2 separate regions of the Homo sapiens genome follow, and region 2 is linked to region 1. The links come from fine-mapping of genetic effects on gene expression. A gene starts in region 1. The other region holds a variant in brackets. All regions are shown on one strand. Distances are from middle to middle.

The links.
Region 2: its variant is fine-mapped to the expression of JAK1 in transverse colon (GTEx, PIP above 0.99). The same link has a PIP of 0.9 or more in subcutaneous fat and whole blood.

What each region holds. Positions count from the first base shown.
Region 1 is chr1:64,961,703-64,970,115 of GRCh38, reverse strand. JAK1 (Janus kinase 1) reads left to right here and starts at 3,567. Exons shown (of 25, transcript NM_002227.4): 1 at 3,567-3,783. RefSeq lists a silencer at 3,343-4,222 and an enhancer at 7,569-7,668.
Region 2 is chr1:64,830,200-64,838,531 of GRCh38, reverse strand. It overlaps RAVER2 (ribonucleoprotein, PTB binding 2), which reads right to left. Exons shown (of 12, transcript NM_001366165.2): 12 at 5,300-7,693. The coding sequence ends at 7,547. It overlaps JAK1 (Janus kinase 1), which reads left to right. Exons shown (of 25, transcript NM_002227.4): 21 at 1-67; 22 at 428-600; 23 at 2,317-2,434; 24 at 3,026-3,136; 25 at 3,875-5,303. The coding sequence ends at 3,970. Among named protein-coding and RNA genes, the nearest start is that of RAVER2, 89 kb to the right of the region's middle. The variant C/AATTC (reference allele first, on the strand shown) is at 4,664.

The DNA of each region.
Region 1 (8,413 bases):
TTTCCCAGGCTTCAGTGCAGTGGCACCATACTAGCTCACTGCAGCCTTGATCTCCTGGGCTCAAGTGATCCTTCCACCTCGACTCCTGAGTAGCTGGGACCACAGGCATGTGCCACCACACTCAGTTATTTTTTGTATTTTTTGTAGATACAGGGTTTTGCCATGTTGCGCAAGCTGGTCTCATTTTGAACTCCTGAACCCATTTTGAACTCCTGAACTCCCAAAATGCTGGGATTACAGGTCTAAGCCACCACGCCTGGCTCAGTGACTGTTTAAAACTTTCCTCTTCTCAAACATAAAACTGAATTTCTTATCCTGTTTAGTCGGTGGCATCCAGTCGGTGGCATCCTTGGTCAGCTTATTAACCAATTCAGAAAATTTGGGAGTCATGCGAGATTCCTCTCTCTGCCTCAGTAGCCACATCTAATCAGTCACCAAGCACTGTCCATTCTATCTCCTCAGGCCTTTTGCATCTTCCTCAGTATCCTTCCCCAGTCCACTGCCTTAGATAGGCTGTCATCTCTCGCAGCTTGCAGTTTTACAATGACATGTAATTAATCTCCTTGCCCTCCAATTCATCTTCCACATTATCCCTAGACTAGTGGTTCTCAGTGGGGTGTGATTTTGCACCCCAGGGGACATTTGGCAACGTCTGAAGACATTTTTGGAAGTCACAGCTGGGAAAGGAGGAGGGTGGGGAGTTGCGGGGGGGTGTGATGGGGGAACAAGAGGACTTGCTACTAGCACCTAGTAGTCAGAGGTCAGAGATGCTGCTAAACATCCTACAATGCACAGGACACCCCCACTACAACAAGAATTTTCCAGCCCACAATGTCAATAGTGCTGAGGTTGAGAGCCCTTGCCCTAGGGTGATTCTTCTAAAACAAAAACCTTAAATCTCTCAAAAAAAAAAACCCACTATTTTATTTTAGGCAAAAGTTTTTGCATGGGATTCAACTTTTCTCATTCCCCAGTCACACAGCATATACTTATTTTTTTTTTTTAAGAGAAGGGGTCTCACTCTGTTGCCCAGGCTAAAGTGCAGTGGTGTGATCCTAGCTCACTGCAGCCTCAAACTCCTGGGCTCAAGTGATCCTCCAGCATCAGCCTCCCAAGTAGTCGGAAATACAGGCATGTGCCACCATGCCCAGCTAGTTTACCTTTTTTTTTTTTTTTTTTTTTTTGAGAGGGAGTCTCGCTCTGTCGCCCAGGCTGGAGTGCAGTGGCACAATCTCAGCTCACTGCAAACTCTGCCTCCCGGCTTCAAGCGATTCTTGTGCCTCAGTCTCCCAAGTAGCTGAGATTACAGGTTCCCGCCACCACGTCCAGCTAATTTTTGTATTTTTAGTAGAGATGGGGTTTCGCCATGTTGGCCAGGCTGGTCTCAAACTCCTGACCTCAAGTGATTGGCCCACCTCGGCCTCCCAAAGTGCTGGGATTACAGGCGTGAGCCACTGCACCTGGCCTTTGTTTGTTTGTTTGTTTTTATTTTAGAGACAGGGTCTTGCTGTGTTGCCCAAGTTGGTGTCAAACTCCTGGCCTCAAGCAGTCCTCCTGCCTCAGCCTCCCAAAGTGCTGAGATTACAGGCATGAGCCGCCACACCCAGCCAGCATATACTATTACTGCCTGAATATGCCGCTACCTCCTGACTCCTGCCTCCTGTCGGCTACTTGAAGCTTATTCTGACTTCCTCAGACTCGGCTGGGTGACTGTCTTCTGTGATCACCATTACAGGACCGGGAATCACTGAATTGTTACTTGCCTGTCTCTCTGACTGCATTGAGCATTCAGAGGTCAGGAACCTAGTCTATTTTTTTTTTCTCTGAATCTTCATCACCTAGCACAATGTCTGTTATAGACGAACAGATCTAAACTGAATCCAGGCCCTCTCCCCCTGATTCCACCCTGTGAACAGCCAGATTCGTTCGTGGGCACAATGGGTTCACTGCTGCCTTCCTGACTTTCCTTTTTCTTTACATCCTCACCTGAAATGCTGTTCTTTCACGTCTCTGTCTCCCTTCATGTCAGTCTCACCTGTTCTTTATGGTCCAGCTCAATAAAAACCCCTACCACTTCCTGAGCCCATGCCATGTGGGCTATATTATCATAGTTCACCTTCAGCAAAACCCCTTTAAGGAAGGCATTATCCCTATTTAACAGGTGAAGAAAATGATGCAAACAGCCCTGAGGTGTTGTTCAGAGTGTGGCAGATGAGACAAGACTTGCACACAAACACCCACAATGCAGGCAACCCGGGTTGCCTCCCTGTCTGCTCTGATCTCCGGTCTTCTTTGGTCCTCTTTTCTGTACTTCTGGAAGGCACTTTGGAGATCCTTTTGTCTGCTGCTCCACTGAGAATTGAGTCAACTAAGAATTGTTTAGGGCAACACAGGTGGTTACTGGTGGAGGCCAAACCTCAAATTCAGTAGTCTAATTCGGATGCTTGACTTTATTCCACACCCAGAATATCTTGCTCAGTTTCAGTTGCAGTAACTCAAGTGATCAGGAACTGTCCAGCAGGGTTAGTGAAGTCAGCACAGGTGGGGCAGCCTCTGTCCACAGCCCTGAAGCTGCAGAATTCTGACCGTGCACGGCCTCGGAGGATTTTCATCCAGGGATTGTCAGGGGGAAGTCGCTGGAGTGTTTTAAGCATGGGAGTGTGTGGAACAGATTTGAATTTTTAAAAGTTCATTGTAGAGAATTAATTGGGGGCTGGAGTGAATGGAGTGACGATTTAAGAGATGTTCGTGGTCCCTTCAGGTGAGAGATGGTGGCAGCTCGGACCGTGTTGCCGGAACATAGACAAGTGAACTGATTGGAGAGATACCTAAGGAAATAAAATTGTTAGGATTTGTCCGTGGACTGCCTACGAAGTATGAATCTTGGCTACAGTGTGACCTTGATTAAGACACTAAAGACTTAATTTGTTCCTCATGGATAAGATGATGCTACTACTTTGAGAGGTTATTAGTAAAAAATGAAAAGCGCTGTACATGCATTAGGTATCAGTGAATGTAGTTCTAATTCCTATTATGCATATGCTTTTTTTTTTTTCGTAAAGAGCTTTTAAAATACGGAATGGGTTGGATCTGCAGTAGCTTGTCCAAGCTGGGGGCTGTATTGTTAAATTCTTTTTAGTCTAGTGCTCCACTAGCTCCTCTCCTACTGAGCTGGGGTAAGAAGCGGAGCGTATACGGAGGAGGCGGGATGCATTTCTGCATCGAGCGCACAAAGGTGTGGCGGAGGGGGCTCCAGAGCTGGGAGGGGTCAATCTACGGGCGAATCCTGGCAATTTTACTCCCCGCGATAGATGACCTCGCGTCCTAGATGAGTTTCTAGATTCTAGAATCTAGAGGACGCGGTGAACAGAGACGAGTGGGGGCAGCTTCGCGAGCGAAGCCGGATGGGGGCGGGGCGGGTAGGCCGGAGGCGCAGAGTCTCCGCCGGGACCGCGACCCCGCCCCGCTTTCCGGGGCTGCCGCTGGTGACGTCGCGAGGGGGTGGGCCCGGCGGCCACGGGGGTGGGGCCGGCCGCGGGGCGGGGCGGGGCGGGACGGGAGGCGGTGCGTCGCTGAGCGCAGGCCGCGGCGGCCGCGGAGTATCCTGGAGCTGCAGACAGTGCGGGCCTGCGCCCAGTCCCGGCTGTCCTCGCCGCGACCCCTCCTCAGCCCTGGGCGCGCGCACGCTGGGGCCCCGCGGGGCTGGCCGCCTAGCGAGCCTGCCGGTCGACCCCAGCCAGCGCAGCGACGGGGCGCTGCCTGGCCCAGGCGCACACGGAAGTGGTGAGTGTCACCGGGGGAGGTGGAGGAGCCGGGGCGGCCGCGGTCGGCAGGCGAGGGGCGCGCAGCCCGGACTGGCCGGAGGCGCGGCCACCGCTCTTGGTCGGTCCTTAGGCTGCGCGGCCCGGGCTGCTCCTGAGCGCAGCTCAGGACCCCGCGGCTCGGGCGGGGAAGGCGGGGATTTCCAGCCCCGCGGAGCCGGCGGGCGGCGAGGAGGTCGCCGGGCGGGGGCCCCCGGCCGGGAGAAGAGCGGTTAAGCCAGGCCGCCCCCTCCCCCAGCGCGCACGGCAAGTTTTCATAAACAAGCCCGGAGCGCGCTGTCTGACATCCTGTTTATACCACCCCGAGATACAGGCGCGGGCTGGAGGGCTGACGTCCCTAGCTCCTTGTACCGCGAACTTGACCGCCAGCTCCCGGCCGGGGTGGCAGCGCAGAAAGGTTTTCTTCTTCGGCCCCAGGAAGGAGGCTGAGGGTCTTAGCTTTTTTCCTTCCTTGCGGTCTCAGCGAGGGAAAGTTTCTGGGATTTGGAGCTGGGTGTTGGGCGTCCGCGAACTCGGGAAACGCCCCCTCCCCTCTTAGGTTCTGTTAGGAACCAGGCCTCAGGTAGCCAGCGAGAAGTGGGAAAGGAGACCCTGGGCGAGAGGACCAGGGAAGGGGAACAGTGGGAGAGAACTACCCGGGGAATTGCGAATCCCACTGGAAAGGGACTGATTAACCGAAACTGGGGCTGGTCTCTGGCTCCCTCACTCCAACTCCATCCGCGCATCGTCGGCGACCGGGAGCATCGGAGGACTAATAGACACTCCTCCAAAGTCACTCCCCAGGGTCCCTGGGATGTGGGCTCCTTGGATGTGTGTTTACCACGGAACTTCTAGATAAAAGATGCGATGTTTGCCAGGTGTTTGTGCACACGTTTTTTGGAGGGTTTGCACTCCATGATTTCCTGTGTGTTCCTGGGGAAGGGGACCCCGTCCTTCCTGCCACTCTTCTTACTACGTGGCTGTGAGCTGCCTTCTGCCCCTGGTTGAGTACATCGCTATACATGTCATTGACACTTTTCCCCCCAAGTCATAGGGTTTTTCTCTCACTGGCAGGAATTTACAGTGGTATAAAATTGTCATTACTTCTTTCAGGGAGTAAAACATGGGTAGTTAAGTGATGAGAATAATGCAGAGAGAGATGTAAATCAGGGCGTGTTTGGTTTTGGCTATTTTTTTATTTTTTGAAGAAAAGATTTGAGTTAAATATGGGTATAGGCACAGTAGATTTTGTTTAAGATGAGCAATTCGTATTGATTGAATCTTTGTTCTTCCCTTTCCAAAACCCCATTATGTGTTGTTTCTTGATTTTGCTTTTGGTGACTCTGATGTTTTCCAAGACCAGGGGATTATTTTCATTGAAGGATCAATGTGTTCTTTTGTACTTTGTGGTGAAGATTAATGGAGACCACCAGGGTTCCAGACATTTCTGGTACAATATGCTTTGTAATGTGGAGAAAATGTCTCCCCTGTATAGATCCAGATCACATTTAAAGATGTGAAGACATCATACTGGAATGACTTTGGACATTATAAATAGGAATAATCATAACCTCTTCTTAATTCTGTATATCATATTAACTAAGTGCTTTGACTGAGTCTTAGTTTCTGCAAATAGATACAAAACTATGTTTTTTTACTGCTAGGATTGCAGTGTGATACTCCACACTGAATACAGCCAGTTTAAATGGTTTCCTCCATTTCATACTATACTAATTATTTACTACCATTGGGAAATGATTGTAGAGAATGCATAAATTAGATATAGGTAAAATAATTCAAACATTTCCTAAAATATAACTACATTTCAGTTGTTGTAATTTAGGATCTTAACATGAGCTTGGCTAAAGCCATATACTTCCGACTGAAACAAGCATTGAGAACGTGTAGGTTGATACTCATTTGTGTAGAGAGAACAAGAGAACACTAAGGTATAACTGCATAGCAAAGACCATGATCTGTGTTTTCTAATTCTCAGATTCCTCTGGTGTTTTTTTCCCCTCAAAGACACATCCCATTTTGTATGTCCTTATGTCCTGATAAGATAATAGCATGCTGTTAGAAGATTTATTGTCTGAGATGTGAATATTCATACAAATAAATTTTTCTTGTTCATTTTCACATTTAAAACCATTATTTTAAGTGGATGGGGAATTGGCTTATTAATGGAATCTCGCTGAAGAAGGAACATTGGATGTTCTGTGATTATTGTGGCTCAGTGGTATATGGAACCTTGTCATTGAACAGGAGTGTTGGAAGGAACTTTCAGATTTTTTTAGACTAGTAAGGGTATGATTTTGCACCCAATGAGATATTTGCAGTTTCTGGAGACATTTTTGGTTGTTACAACTTGGGGGAAGGGAGCGGTGCTACTGGTAGGCATCTAGTGGTTAGAGGCTAGGGATGCTACTAAACATCCTATAACGCACAAGACAGCCCCCCATCCCAAACAAAGAATTATCCATCTCAGTAGTGCCCAGGTTAAGAAGTCCTGCTTTGGAATACTGAGTAAGGAGCAAGAAGATCTGGGCTCTTGTGGCAAATTTTTTCACTTCAGGGCACCTCTTTTCTTCATTTGCAAAATGGAGATAAAAATATTCTCCCTGGTCATCTCGCAGAGTTTTGGGGGGAAGTCAGGTAAATAATGCATGGAAACTGTGACGTGCTATGCAAATCATAACTAATATGAAGAGTATTTTTCATAAGTGAATCATTAGATTTACCGGTAGTTGAGGGAACCAGGGTTAAGGCAATATGTTGAGTAAAAAGCCGCCTGTGGATGGTTTGATATTATCGAATTCTTTGTTATTCATTTTTTGGGGTAAAGGTTTTTTTAGTATACTTAGTTTTCTTATTGTCAGAACATGTACTTTTTAGCTCTATAATTTCTTTAAGCAAAGGTTATTTTTCCCATCATAACAATAAGGAGAATTCACTATAGAAAAATTAGAAAATATAGGAAAGTAGAAAATAGAGGGAACAAGTCATTCATGCTCTACTCGCTTGTCCATTTAAGCACACTCACATCCTTGCCAATTTCTTTTCTATAAGAGCAGTTAGGATTCAGAGAATGATGAGAGAGAGTAGCTGGTGACCAAGGAAGGTGTTCCTTGTTTCTGTGCCCTTCATTTCTTTCTTTTTTAATAATTACGATGTAAAGGTAAATTACATTATAGTAGGCATCAGAGACATCGGTTCATTGTTTTTATTATTATTTTTATTTTTCGAGATGGTGTCTCACTCTGTCGCCCAGTCTGGAATGCAGTGGCACAGTCTAGGCTCACTGCAACCTCTGCCTCCCAGGTTCAAGTGATTCTCGTGCCTCAGCCTCCCGAGTAGCTGGGATTACAGGCACGTTCCACCATGCCTGGGTAATTTTTGTGTTGTTTTTTAGTAGAGATGGGATTTCACCATGTTGGCCAGGCTGGTCTAGAACTTCTGATCTCAAGTGATCCGCCTGCCTTGGCCTCCCACAGTGCTGGGATTACAGGCGTGAGCCACCGCGCCTGGCCTGGTTCATTGTTTTTATACTTTCCTTGCTGCCTCCAAGCCATGTTCTCATTCAGCTTGTTTCCTCTCTGCTTCTTACTCTCCCCCGTGCTCAGCTAGGTGTGCCACTGTTGCTTCCTGTCTCAGAAACCCTCTGGTTACATGGGATTTCAAACAGCTGTCATGTTGAAATGACTGGGTTTCAGGGACCGGAAACTAATTCCTGTGAGTATTCTTTCCTCTGAGGTGCACCAGCCTTCTTGGCAGTTTAAGGCGACAGGAAAGCATAAAACATTAAGCTCATTTCCGTGATACCTCCACTTCTGAGGGTTTATGATCCATGATTCTTTGTAGTTGGCAGTGGGCACACATTCTTCCTTGGTGCTCTGCGGATAAACTGCCCAGTCCCGAGGCAAGACCTGCTTTAGAAGCAAAAGGATAATTTCTTTTAAGTCTACTCTGGCCAGAAGATAGAGCTGGCGTTTGTTGGGATATTTTTAATCTGCAGTAACTGAATTTATTTAACAGTACTATTCACACTAGCATTTTATACATTCTTTTATTCATTTAGCAAATACTTGTTGAGCTCTTGCAGTGAATCTCAGAGAGTGAATAGACAGACAACAAAACAGGTACAAATCTGTCCTCGTGTGGAATTTACAGTCTAGTGGAAGACCCTGAGGGCATGTTCAGTTTTACAGTTGCAGACTATATGCATGTAAAAGAGTAAATCTTTGTGATTGTAGAATGTTTCCTAGAACCCTTCATGGCACTCCTTTGAAGTTTGAGGACTAGGAAGTAGCTTCCCCTTGTTATCTTTCTTTTTTTAATGTTACAGATTAATTCATTCTTTGTATGCACAGACATCTCTTTGGTACCTATTAAGTGCCTGGCAGAAGGATAAGACATAGTTTATATGGAAATAAACTTGGTATACATGGCTGTAACACATTGTGGGTGATGCTGTAGTAGCAGTCAGAATTAAGAGCTCCAGGACCCTGAAGAGAGCTAATTCCTGCGTGGAGCCCTTGTCAAATGCTTTTTTGAAGAGGCTTCATTTGAGTTGGGCCTTCAGGAGTGAGTAGGAGTTCCTTTGTTTTAGGGTG
Region 2 (8,332 bases), 130 kb after region 1:
TCTTCCAAAGAATAAGAACAAAATAAACCTCAAACAGCAGCTAAAATATGCCGTTCAGATTTGTAAGGTAAAAAATAAAGACATCATGTTACAGATTAAGACATCAGGCACTCTGTCCTGGGTAATTGGTTTGTAATTTGACTCTAAGTGGGTAAGTTTATGATAATTATACTGTTTGTTTTTCTCTGCATTATTTAGATGAAAAGTTAGCTTCTACTAAGAAAGTAAACGGATTTAAATATGGTTATTTTAATGTGTATTTATTTGAATCAGTTTGTTCTTAATATTCTTGCATAAAAGTCAGAACCAAAAAAATTGTCAGTGATATGTGAATGAAATGACATTTCTATTTTTTCTGATGAAGTGATAGATAATACAATCTAAAGTGACTTTAGCAATGTGCTTGACTTTTACTTCTCTCTCTCAGGGGATGGACTATTTGGGTTCTCGGCAATACGTTCACCGGGACTTGGCAGCAAGAAATGTCCTTGTTGAGAGTGAACACCAAGTGAAAATTGGAGACTTCGGTTTAACCAAAGCAATTGAAACCGATAAGGAGTATTACACCGTCAAGGATGACCGGGACAGCCCTGTGTTTTGGTAACTGAATCAAACCACTAGGTTTTATCAATGCTTCATAGAGTTTACACTGTTTTAATAGGCCCTTTCTGGCTATATTAATGTGTCTCATTCCTCTGGCCTGACTCAAGGTTAGAGAAGGTTTAGAACATTTGGAATTGATTGATATTTATCTTCAAGAAACACACCTTTCAGCCTGTTTCATTGAAAGCAGCCTATATAAATGACTGAGCTTCATATGACACCGTCTTCCAAGGAATGAAAGAAATCTAACCACCAGCTCAACATTCCTAGCTTTCCAGGAGAGGGCATTCATCTGATGCAGTTCTTAAAACTGTGAGCAGGTGGAGAGAATCTAGTTCCTTTCTTAAACACATTCCTGCAGAGGGAGGCTGTAGGACAGAGTGGGCATTGCAGATTCAGGGAACTCCTGGACAGAGCAGAGCAAAACCTACGGGAGACCTGGCTGTCTCATGAATCACCAGAGGTTCCCAGGTTAGAAGGCCACACACTGGCTACAACCATGTCTCAGCCGGGAACACTGTCCAGGGGAGAGGCTGCTTACATCTCTACCGCACCCTGCCACGTAACCACATAACGACATAACCAATCAGCACTCCCCTAGGTGCATCCTACATGGACACAAACATAGACCTCTCCCACTTATGGAGCCTAAACTTACTCATTCATTCATTTAAGAAAATGCATCAAGGTCCTGCTTTGTGCCAGTACTGGAGATATGGTGAACAAGTAGGCCGAGTTTAGAGTTTAACAGGCTAGGCAGCCAACGGCATGGAGCAGGAAACATACAGAAGGGTTCGGGCTTGGTTTTCTGGAAGTCGTGAGTATTCAGAAGAAACCTGAAAGATTCATGCGGGTTTAGACAGACGGTTGCTAGACAGCATGCGTGACTAGGAAGAATGAGACAAGAGCAGTCGATTTCCCAGGAACTGAACCTCAGTGAGGTCAGATCATGGAATAGGAGGTTTGCAGGAGGAAGCTTGAGTCATGGAGCTGGGACTTCATCTCAAGAACAATGGGATGCTGCTGGAGAGTTTAAGGAGGGAGACTTTGTTTTAAAAAGACCACCACTGAATGAAGGGAACAAGATTGGAGCCAGGGAGTCTGGAGCCAGGGAGTCTGGAGCCAGGGAGTCTGATTTGGCTGCTTCAACAGCTCAGGCCAGAGCTAGTGACAGCATGAATTAGGACAGGGACTGGGAGAGTGACAGTAGGGTTTGAGAGAAGTGAGTAGGTTCAAGGAGTATATAAGGAGATTGGGTGCGGTGGAATGCCTTCATTTTTGGCTTGGGCAAGTGGGTGTCATTCAGCAAAGTAGGCAATGCTGGAAGAGGATTGGACAGCGATGCCACATTGTGCAGTGAGGCCACTGCTGTCTCATTTAGAGCCTGCAGGCAAATCAGACCTGGGGCTCATCATTACACGGCCACCTCCTCCCATACCCTGAGAGCATGTTCTCAGTGAAATGAAGAGCACAGACTTGGCGTGTTATTTTAGGGCAGATACGTGCTACCGAGAGCCTGTAAAGGATACCGTACTATAGGTCAGATGTGCACCATAGCAGCGTATACATGGTATGTGTAAAATATATAATACACAGTCAGATGCTGTATTAAATTATAAGAAAAACCGAAGAGGTGATTTTTCAGTTATCCTGTAATGTCGGATGGAGTGTGCCTCCCAGGAAATGAAGTTTTGTGTTCTGCTTCCTTTCAAGGTATGCTCCAGAATGTTTAATGCAATCTAAATTTTATATTGCCTCTGACGTCTGGTCTTTTGGAGTCACTCTGCATGAGCTGCTGACTTACTGTGATTCAGATTCTAGTCCCATGGCTGTAAGTCCTACTTTTCTCTTCATTTGAATCCAGTACCCATTTAAAATGTGTCCATCCCTCTGCTTGGTTAACTTTTGTTTTTAAATGGAATCCAATGAATGTATTATAATGGAAAATGTCACTTTCCCATTAACTTGGTTTGCTACTTGACAGTTATTTGTGAATCTCTAAAGTCTTGCTTTCACAACGAGCCCGGAGTTCTATAGGATGACCTTGACTCTCAAGGATCTTATCTGTGTAGAGATGAAGGGCAGTTTTATGGGAAAATGAGCAAGTTAAGTGGGGTAGCACTGGGTAGGGACCAGCCTTGTCTGTGCCTCCTTCATTCCTAAATCAGATCATTTTCTTGGGAACAGACTCCTTGACCAGCACAAGCACAAGGAGTGGTTGGTAGAGTCTAAGACACTGGTTAGAGACAGATCATTGAAAGCTAATAAGGATTTTGGATTTTTATTTAAAGTTACTAAGGAGAAAAGCCTTTTTATTGCTACTTAAATTTCCAGTTGATTGTAGAAATTTCACCTTAATCTGTTTGGCATTTATGTAAATACTTGCAAAGTTAAACGTTTTGTTTGATTTTATTTTATATAGTTGTTCCTGAAAATGATAGGCCCAACCCATGGCCAGATGACAGTCACAAGACTTGTGAATACGTTAAAAGAAGGAAAACGCCTGCCGTGCCCACCTAACTGTCCAGATGAGGTATCTATGGGCCACGTCACAGTAATAACACTCCATTTCTATTATGTTTTCGCAGCTTGAGTTGTCCAGCAATGGGTAGAGGGGAGAGCGAGGAAATGATGCAGTGAAGTCCTTGTAAAATAGTTTTCTGAAGCTGAATTTCACATAAGATAACTGAGAAATCGCCTTTGGGGCTAGATGATAGCCACCAGTTAGGTTCAGAGCAAGGATTCCCTCCAAAAGCCAGCCCCTCTTTATCCACTTGCTTGCCCCAGAGGGACAGGTTTTGGTGTAGCCTTAGTGTGACAAATACATATAATTGCATTTTTTGTGTGTAAGTTTATCCCACTTATTAGCATTTATAATTCAGTTTTCTAAGTGAATTGAGCCTTTAATACTAAACTCTTGAGACTGTGTAAGACACACTGAACAGTATGAGTCAGAGAGTGAGGCAGCCAGTCTGGAAAGTTCAAGTCTGAACTGAGATTCTGCTTCACCCTCTAACTGGTTTACAGGAATGACCTGGATTTTATTGCAGCCAGTCAACCCTTGAGCTTCTCAAATGTTAAAATATTATTTATGAACTAGAGTTGTATCCCATTTTCTGTGTTTTAAACTATTCAAATACTCTTGTTTTTCTAGTCTTTAAGGAAAAGTCATTGCATTTCCAAAATTATTTTCTTACTCTTGATATTTCTGTTATTTTTTAAAGTTCCCAGATCTAACATTTTTACTGTTGTTACTTCTTTCTTTTTACAGGTTTATCAACTTATGAGGAAATGCTGGGAATTCCAACCATCCAATCGGACAAGCTTTCAGAACCTTATTGAAGGATTTGAAGCACTTTTAAAATAAGAAGCATGAATAACATTTAAATTCCACAGATTATCAAGTCCTTCTCCTGCAACAAATGCCCAAGTCATTTTTTAAAAATTTCTAATGAAAGAAGTTTGTGTTCTGTCCAAAAAGTCACTGAACTCATACTTCAGTACATATACATGTATAAGGCACACTGTAGTGCTTAATATGTGTAAGGACTTCCTCTTTAAATTTGGTACCAGTAACTTAGTGACACATAATGACAACCAAAATATTTGAAAGCACTTAAGCACTCCTCCTTGTGGAAAGAATATACCACCATTTCATCTGGCTAGTTCACCATCACAACTGCATTACCAAAAGGGGATTTTTGAAAACGAGGAGTTGACCAAAATAATATCTGAAGATGATTGCTTTTCCCTGCTGCCAGCTGATCTGAAATGTTTTGCTGGCACATTAATCATAGATAAAGAAAGATTGATGGACTTAGCCCTCAAATTTCAGTATCTATACAGTACTAGACCATGCATTCTTAAAATATTAGATACCAGGTAGTATATATTGTTTCTGTACAAAAATGACTGTATTCTCTCACCAGTAGGACTTAAACTTTGTTTCTCCAGTGGCTTAGCTCCTGTTCCTTTGGGTGATCACTAGCACCCATTTTTGAGAAAGCTGGTTCTACATGGGGGGATAGCTGTGGAATAGATAATTTGCTGCATGTTAATT[C/AATTC]TCAAGAACTAAGCCTGTGCCAGTGCTTTCCTAAGCAGTATACCTTTAATCAGAACTCATTCCCAGAACCTGGATGCTATTACACATGCTTTTAAGAAACGTCAATGTATATCCTTTTATAACTCTACCACTTTGGGGCAAGCTATTCCAGCACTGGTTTTGAATGCTGTATGCAACCAGTCTGAATACCACATACGCTGCACTGTTCTTAGAGGGTTTCCATACTTACCACCGATCTACAAGGGTTGATCCCTGTTTTTACCATCAATCATCACCCTGTGGTGCAACACTTGAAAGACCCGGCTAGAGGCACTATGGACTTCAGGATCCACTAGACAGTTTTCAGTTTGCTTGGAGGTAGCTGGGTAATCAAAAATGTTTAGTCATTGATTCAATGTGAACGATTACGGTCTTTATGACCAAGAGTCTGAAAATCTTTTTGTTATGCTGTTTAGTATTCGTTTGATATTGTTACTTTTCACCTGTTGAGCCCAAATTCAGGATTGGTTCAGTGGCAGCAATGAAGTTGCCATTTAAATTTGTTCATAGCCTACATCACCAAGGTCTCTGTGTCAAACCTGTGGCCACTCTATATGCACTTTGTTTACTCTTTATACAAATAAATATACTAAAGACTTTACATGCATATGCCTTTTAATATTAAGATTTCATTTTCAAAGCATTTCAAACAATTTGCTTACATAGAAAAATAACAGTATAGTTTTGGGGGGAGGAAGGGGTGGGTTACGGTCCTTACTACTAACAAACAAACAAACACCACTTGATTTGCACTTCTTCACTGTTGTGCCCAGTGATTGATAACGGGGCACAGGCCAGTATGGATGGCATGTCCACTGTGCTGTAGTCCAGACACCTTTGTTTGTTTGTTTTAGTTCCTTCAACCTCTTCCTGCTTTGACTGACTGACTTTTTGCAGCTCTGTTGCAAAATTCACCATCTTTCCTTTCTTCTGTTTGTTTGTTTGTTTGTACTATAGTGGAGGTGTGACTAAGCATTGAAGAGGCTGAATGCAACAGGAAAATGGGAAAGAGAAGTGCAGGGCCTGAAAAACCCATTAGTCATCTGCTATATCACTGAATGATGCCTAATTCTTATCAGTTACTTATAGGTAGTATACTTAGAAATTACCTTAAACTTTCTAGCTGTCAGTCATTTTCCAACAGAAGCTAGTATATGCAATAAATTAGACCAAGTGAAATTCTTTACAAAGCATACAACATATGTACCAATTCTAGACTTCATAATTAAAACAGGATATCCACATCATAGTTAAAAATAACAAGTCCCCAAAGTGACGAGATATTTAATGATCTGATTTCAAAAAGCCCCGGATTGAGATCCCAAATTCCCTATCAATTAATTACAGTCTTATAACATAAACAAACTTAGAAATTTCTAGATGGCAAAAGGTTTCTCATGCATTTAATACCAAGGTCTTCAAGAAATGGTGATGTCAAAAGTCATCATAGTCCATAAAGATAAAACTTCTTTCACAAGTAAATTGGGTTAAATAACTGATTTTTCACCCTAACACACTATCAAAAAGAGTGAGAGAGAAAGCAGAGAGTGAGGTATAGCTTATTAGCTCAAAATGGTTATAAATACTGTGACTCCTTAAGACTCCATCAGAAAGTGCAGTATTGACTGCTTTACTATACTATATTGTGGAAATAATAGGGCATTTAGTGATCAAAATAGGCCCCATTCTAGTCATTAGATCATTACTAGTCTACGCTATGAAATGAGCACAGAAACCCATGTTCCTTTCCACTTACAAGTCTGTCTAAAGGCTAAAGGTCTGTCTTTAGGTGAATTGAAAGGAATAGTTGCTATTAGAATTAGTGCTATTAGATCAGGGATCAGCAAACTATATATAAATGGCCAGATACTTGAAATTTTAGGCCATATGGTCTTTGTAGGCCATACAGTCTCTGTTGAAGCTAATCAGTTCTGCCCTTGTAGCGTAAGAGTGCCACAGACAACACGTAAATGAATGAGCATGGCAACGTCCCAATAAAAGTTTATTTATGGACACTGAAATCTGAATTTCATATAAATTTCATGTCATAAGTTTTCTTTTTTCCTCCAACCATTTAAAAATGTAAACATTAGTCTTAGCTTGCAGGCAGCACAAAAGCGGGTGGTAGACCAAATGTGGACCCAGGGTGTAGTTTGCCAAACCCTTTTATTAGATCACCAAAGTTACTTTTCTTAAAATACCTTCTATTTTTCACAGAAGGTATAAATGGTAAACAACATCTTAAAGCATCGGTAGTAGTGGATACCTTGGATATCACTGTCACTCTCTTACCGGGTTTAATTTTGCATGGCTGGTGTGGGCGTAATTGAGTGTGCATGTAGAGCATCTTTATAATATTACCATCAGCACATTTGGTACTTGCACCCTTGTAGTTCTAGGAAAAGTCCTAAAAATCTATAAATGCAATTACTTCTAGGGAAAGTAAATTGAAATGCACATTGGCTTATAAGAAACTCATTCTTCTAAGGCTCAGGAAACAACACTGTTTCCCATTTATTGCTTCAAACTTCTTTTATATATGGTGTCAGAATTATTCCCAGTCCTAAATCAAGGAATATTGGAACATTGTTAGTTTCTCCAATGGATTGTAAGTTAGCACACTGATTAAGATGCATCTGACTCTAGTGGAAAATGTCCTCAATTGATGTCTCTTCTTATTGCTATTTTTTATTTGGCATTTCTGCCTGCTGCACAACACAGTTCCTTCTGGGAAACTATAAACCCGTATTTAAAGGATATGGCTAGTTTGAATGAAGTTAAGGCAGCGATGAACAGCAGAGATACTGCAGAGAACCTTAGGGGGTTATTAGGAGAGAGCTTAACTCAGTATACTCGCTTCTTTTTTAAGTAAGTTTCCATGTAATATGCTCCTGTGCCCTGAGAATGCTGGTCAACACATTCCACTGAACCACCTTCTGGGGCAGAGATGAGATATGATGAGCCTCGCTTTTCATTTCTTAAAGATGACACCTATGAGAAAATAAAATTGCAGCTAGTTTTAAAATCTAAAGTTGGCTTATTCATTAAAGATATTTATAAGAAAAGCATTCCACTTTGACTTGGTGAATATAGAATAACAGGATAAATACCCAAACTATCAAAAAATACACAAACCCCTTTGTTAAATAAGACTTTTAAATTTCTGTATCAACATCGCCTTTGGAATTTCTGCAAGACACAAACCAGTCTCAGCACCTTCACTCCCAACCCCAACTTTTTGGGAAAAGAAAAAATTAGAGCACTGCATGCAGCTGCTTCTGCTGATCACAGCTAGTTAAACCCACGGACTCAGAATATCAACACCGAATGTCAGTATTCCTCTGAAGGAGGAGTGGCTAAGACATCAAGCTGCATATTGAATTAGATGTTAAGTGTGCCTGGTGACAAGAGGAGTGGTGAGAGAATAAATCAATAGGTGTAGAAACTGACAAATGACATCAAAGAAAACAACATGAAACATTCTAGAGAGCAATGGGAAACTCAGAGCTTTGGTCTCCACAATAATCGCCTGGCGAGCATATTAAAATGCAGGTTTTCAGGCACCATCCCAGAGATTCTGACCTGAAAGTGGGCCACATGTCCTCACAAGTGGTCACAGTGATCAGCACA